2 separate regions of the Homo sapiens genome follow, and region 1 is linked to region 2. The links come from fine-mapping of genetic effects on gene expression. A gene starts in region 2. The other region holds a variant in brackets. All regions are shown on one strand. Distances are between the middles of the regions. Region 1 overlaps MCM5 (minichromosome maintenance complex component 5). Region 2 holds the start of HMOX1 (heme oxygenase 1).

What was found. PIP is the estimated chance that this variant, and not a neighbour inherited with it, causes the effect. A credible set is the group of variants that fine-mapping cannot tell apart.
Region 1: its variant is the best candidate, but not a certain one, in a credible set for the expression of HMOX1 in whole blood (TOPMed, PIP 0.55).

What each region holds. Positions count from the first base shown.
Region 1 is chr22:35,405,852-35,408,757 of GRCh38, reverse strand. It overlaps MCM5 (minichromosome maintenance complex component 5), which reads right to left. Exons shown (of 17, transcript NM_006739.4): 5 at 2,033-2,205; 6 at 195-350. Among named protein-coding and RNA genes, the nearest start is that of MCM5, 7.2 kb to the right of the region's middle. The variant GT/T (reference allele first, on the strand shown) is at 1,648.
Region 2 is chr22:35,379,541-35,382,446 of GRCh38, reverse strand. It overlaps HMOX1 (heme oxygenase 1), which reads right to left and starts at 1,351. Exons shown (of 5, transcript NM_002133.3): 1 at 1,251-1,351. The coding sequence starts at 1,273. RefSeq lists silencers at 1,081-1,250, 1,551-1,630.

The sequences.
Region 1 (2,906 bases), 26 kb before region 2:
CCCCTGCAGATTATGGAAAGACGAGATGAGAGGAACTTATGGAAGCATTAGGCACAGAGCAGGTGCTCTGCAACTGGCCACCTTCTCCACCCTACTCACCCTGCTCCAGATGACCCACTCCCAACACTCGGGTTAGGGCCACAGCTGGGACATCCACCGTCGTAGATGCCCACCTCCCAGCCCGTCTGCCTCACCTGTCGCAGTAGAGCTGCATGTGTCTGGGCATCTCCCCGTGGGGGACTGCATCAGGCAGCTCCTGCAGCTTCAGGGTCTGGAAGTCCACGCATTTGCATTTGTCGGGCATGATGAAGTACGGGTCCAATGGGCATTTGGGGCGCCCAGCCTGATCTCTGTACAAGGTAAGGGAAAAGAGTCACCAAAGCTACCTGGAGAATCCAAAGGCAGGGCTCATTCATCCCAGGAGCCAGCAAGGAGACGTTGCCAGCGGCAATTTATGGGGGTCTCCAGAATAAGCTGGAGATAAGCCAGGCAGGCAACGCTGCCTGGAGGTAAGAAAGGAAGGCAACACTGACGGACCTAGCACTGGATTAAGAGTCAAGGGAACTGCTTGAGGCTGGGTCCTTCCATTAACTTGCTGAGAGGAGGCAGACAGGTCACACTCGGTCTTCTTGCAGGATCATGGTGTCCTCATGGGTGAAGAGCTAGTTCATCAATTCTCTTACTAAAGCCCCACTCAAATCCCAAGATCTTTTCCAGTGGGATTCTAGGCAGTTCTAGACCATTCTGAGGGTCTAAGCCTCTACGTATCCCTAGGTAATTATGTCATTATTCAATAGATATTATAGCAACATAAAGAAGTAAACATCATAGCAAAACCTACTATGTGTCTGACACTATTCCAGGTGCAGGGGGCACAGCACTGAACAAAAAGGTCCCTGCTCTTGTGGAGCCTAAGTTCCTATCAAGGGAGGCTGAAAAGACATACAAGCAAACAATCATATTAAAGAGTGACAGCTACATGCTGTGAAGAAAAGTAAAAAAGTAGGCAGGTGTGGGAGAGACGAGGTACGTGCACACCAAACTGAAGATGAAGGGTTGGGCAAGATGCCCCTGGTAAGGGGACATGTGAAGAGAAGCCTGAAGAAGTGAGGACACAGACTATGGTAGCTTGAGGAACAGCACTCCCAGTAGAGGAAACAGCAAGGTCAAAGGCAGTGAGACTGGGGGTAGTCAGTGTATTCCAGAAACAGGAAGGAGGCAGTGAGGCCGGGCCTGGAGAGAGGAGGGGCAGCGAGGCCTGGGGAAGCCAGGAGCAGATCGTGGTGGGCTGTGCAGGACTTGACTAAGAAGTAAATGACTGGACCACCTGAGTGTCAAGGGACACCTGGCTGCTGGGTGGAAAACAGACTGAGGGGGTGGAGGGTGGACGCGGGGGATCAGGGAGGAGGTAGCGTGCCTCTCCAAGTGAGAGATGTCAACAGCATGGAATGAGGCAGCTGTGCCACAGGTGGATGGGAAGCTGAGGAGGCACCAGCGAAGGAGCCAAGAAAGAGCAGCCAGTGAAGAGGGTGGGGTTCCTTCAGACTGGGGGCAGCAAACATTTTCTAGAAAGGGCCGGAGGATGTGCATTCCAGGTTCTGCCAGCCAAGAGGCCACATACCCTGCCTTTGTAGTGCGAAACCAGCT[GT/T]GGGCAATACTTAAATGAACGAACGTGTTCCTGGGCCATAGGGTCAGCAGGCTAGATCTGGCCTAGTGAGCAAACCATAGTTTGCTTCAGAAGATTCCAAGTAGACTCATTACCCTGGACTGCTTTTCCCTCCCAACCCTGGGTTCCCTACAACGCTGTCTGGGTATCCTGGTGAGACAGAAGTCACCAATGTAGAGGGACCCTGTTCATGGTGTCTCAGAGCCACAGGGCATCAGATCTGTGCCAATCCTAAGGGCACACCCCTGCCCAGCCCATCCCAGTGGATCTCTAGAAGCAGCTGCAGGCAGTGCTTGCTACTTGTTCTCATCCTTTCTGATCTTCACTCAGGTCACCTCCCACAGTCCCTCTGGGCCACAGACTCACGTGTTGCACTTCCTGGGCAGGGCATAGCCCTCGAGGCCAGGGCGCATGGCAATGTTGGTGAGGGTGTTGCGGCAGCTGCGGCACTGGATAGAGATGCGGGTGGCCTTGGCACGGACCGCAGAGGCCGCGATGATGATGCCAGGGATCTTCACCAGGTGTGACATCATGTCCGACTGTAATAGAGCCATCGGGAAGCTTGTTGGTTAAGGGGAGCCAGGACGCATCTGAGATATGCCAGTAAATATCCTGGGCAGGAGCCTGGAGGAGGTGGGCACAGAGCTGCAGGGAGGGCCACAGCTCTTCTGTTCCGCTCAAAAAATGCTTCCAGAGCATCCACCCAGTGCCAGGCTATCTGGACCCTGGGGTTCAGAGGAGCCTCAGGCACAGCTCCTGCTTTTAAAGACCTCGCAGCACAATTGGGGGGGGAGGTGGCAGGGCAAGAGATACACTAAGCACATTTCACTACAAAGTGGCAGGTGCCAGGAGAGAGACCTGACCCCAGCTCTGATGGCGACATCCTTGGACCTGTAGAGTACAACACAGAACAAACCTGGGAGGCAGGGGCCCACATTCTAGTTCAAGTTCTGTCAAAACCTGCTGTGTGGTCTTCTGTCTGGGTCACTTCTCTTTGAGCCTCAGTTTCCCCATCTTAATGACTATTCCCACACCGGACAATAAGGCAGTAATATTTTTTCTTTTTTCTTTTTTTTTTTTTGAGACAGAGTCTTGCTGTGTCGCCAAGGCTGGAGTGCAATGGCAGGATCTCGGCTTACTGCAACCTCCGCCTCCCGGGTTCAAGCGATTCTCCTGCCTCAGCCTCCCAAGTAGCTGGGATTACAGGTAACTGCCACCATGTCCAGCTAACTTTTTGTAT
Region 2 (2,906 bases):
CCAGGAGGCAGAGGTTGCAGTGAGCCGAGATCGCGCCACTGCACTCCAGCCTGGGCAACAGAGCAACACTCCATCTCAAAAAAAGAAAAGCAAAAAAGCAAAAAAACAAAAAAACAAAAAACAAAAAACAAATTCAGGCTGGGCATGGTGGCTCTCGCAGCTTTGTAAACACTCTTCAGTCATTAAAACACTAAATAATACAGTCCCCCAAACCAAGGGGGAAATCCTGGTACAGGTAGTTCGCAGTGGAGAGGAGGAGGAGGTACAGCATAACCCAGGAAGAAGCAGCAGCCCCATGAACCGGCATCTCCAAGTTTGTAATTGCTTTGATTGGCTTTTAGACCCAATATTTAATTCAGTTATTTTGTTAAAGTTCCAGATGCAAATCTCATGACCCCCTATCATGTTATGCTCATCATGAAGGCGTCAGGGTTAAAAAGCCTGAGAAAGTCTGCTTTAGTCAAAGAAAAAGTCTTTCTGGGAGTATTTCTGTCATGGGTCCGTATCCCTGCCTCCCCACAGAATTGTCATTTTTCCCTTTTCTCCTGCCCTGCTTCCCTGTTCTACAACACAGCTGGTCAAAGTCTCAGGAGAAATGGCACATGTCTGTAAGTCCCAGCTACTCTGGAGGCTGAGGTGGGAGGATGCTTAAGCCCAGGAGTTAAAAAAAAAAATACTAACAAATTATTGAAAGAAGGGAATGAGTGAGACCTGGAGGTGGGCAGACCAAGGTTCAAGGCCCAGTTCTGACACCAGCTAACTGAGCACTCTTGGGCATGTCGCCTCCCTGAACTGGGCTATCTGTGAGACATGGAACACCGCAGCCAGGGTGATGTCTGGCTCAGGTCCTCCGTAGCTAGTGAGGGACAGATGCCACCAAGAGAACCAAGCATGCTCCCCCAGGCTGGCAGAGCCCCAGAGATCTAGATTCAGCAGAGAGCAACTCCAAACACACCTCGAAAGTAGGATTAAAAAAAAAATTGGCTACCTCAAAGACTGGATACTCTAGGGACACTCCCATCTTGGTCACCAACCGCATACCAGGGTGCCAGGCATGTAAATTACCGTTCCTCCCTCCAACTACCCTACGGGCACAGGCAGGATCAGAACCCCGCACCTCCTGACTCCAGAGCCCAAGTTTCTGGCTCCTGGGCTCTGTCGCTGTGTGGCAGTGTCCCGGGGTGGGGCTAGGACGCAAGCAGGGTTGGGAGAGAAAGGCGCCCGTCCCGCGTCCCGCGCCCCGCGCTTGCCTGTCGGGTTGCGGACGCTCCATCCGGCCGGTGCTGGGCTCGTTCGTGCTGGCTCCGCGGGCGGCGGCTGCGCTGAGGACGCTCGAGAGGAGGCAGGCGTTGACTGCCGGAGCCGCGGCCGGTCACATTTATGCTCGGCGGGTCACGTGGGCCAGGCGGAACAGCTGATGCCCACTTTCTGGCCGGGCGTTGCAACACCCGCAGGGGCCCGCGCCCAGCCCGCCCCGGGCCAGTGTGGGGTGGAGAGGAGCAGTCATATGACCCTTGGGAAACAAAGTCTGGCCATAGGACTTTTAGAGAAAACACACACACACACACACACACACACACATACACACACACACACACACACACACACACACAAAACCTTTAAGGAAATCTGAGAAGCTGCAGGCTCTGGGTGTGATTTTGCTCCTTCCAGAGCCCCCCCTTCTGCTCCCTGTCCCCTTGGGACTTGATGCACCCCAGGCGTCCCAGAAGGTTCCAGAAAGCTGGGAGGCAGCGCTGCTCAGAGCAATAGCCTGGTGGGCAACATCAGGAACTTAGCAACCCCAGGCTCTGCTGTCTCCAGCTCCCTAAAATGTCACCTGCTGGAATCCTCTGCTGACTGCTTGCCTCCTCACACCCTCTTTAAATGTACATTTAGGATCTGTTTTTTGAGTTCCTGTCAAAAAACAGAGACTCTAGTATTTTCATGGTTCATCCCTACAACTGACCTGTGAGGGTAGATCGCTTCTATTTTACAGATGGGGAAACCGAGGCTCAGAGGGGTGCAGTGGTGTCACACATAAAGCAGGATGCCAGTGTCCAAACCCAGGGAGGAGACTAAGTCCCCGCCTGCCTCCTCCACACTCTGGCAGCACCTGGTATCCGCCTGGACTGGGACACCTGTCATACAAACTGCTTCCCTGCTGGAATGCGTGGGACACTCTTCCAGGCACATTCAGGTCTGACTTATACTCAGTGCCTGCTCAGGGCCCAGAGCAGAGCTGGCCCTTGCTGATCGCCTATTGAATCAATTCTGCATGAGGTGGACTCCTTAGAACTCGGGGGAAATAGGGTCACTGGGTGAACCCAGAGGACAAAACGAATGGACCAGATGATTCATACAGTCCTTTCCCAATACTGTGATTCTCATTCTAAGATTTTTTTTTTAAGATGGCTTTCAGGCCTGGCATGGTAGCTCACACCTGTAGTCCCAGTACTTTGGGAGGTTGAGGTGGGAAGAGCGCTTTGAGCCCAGTCGAGGTGGGAAGATTGCTTTGAGTTCGAGACTGGCCTGGGCAACATAGGGAGACCCTGTCTCTACAAAATATAAAATAAATTAGCTGGGCATGGTGGCACATGCCTGTGGTCCCAGCTACTTGGGAGGCTGAGGCTGGAGGTTCACTTGAGCCTGGGATGTAGAGGCTGGAGTGAGCTGTGACCACGCTACTGTATTCTAACCTGGGCAACAGAACAAGACGCTGTCCCTCAAAAAAAAAAAAAAACAAAAAAAAAAAAAAAAAACTTCCTGGAATTCAGCCTAGGGCCACTACAGCCCAGAGGCACTTCTGAGATTGTATTGGAAAGGATCATCCTCCCAAGGGTGAGCTAAGGGGCCTTGAAAAAAATTCCCCTTCTTCCTCTGAAGGTTCCCCGAAAACCAACCGACAA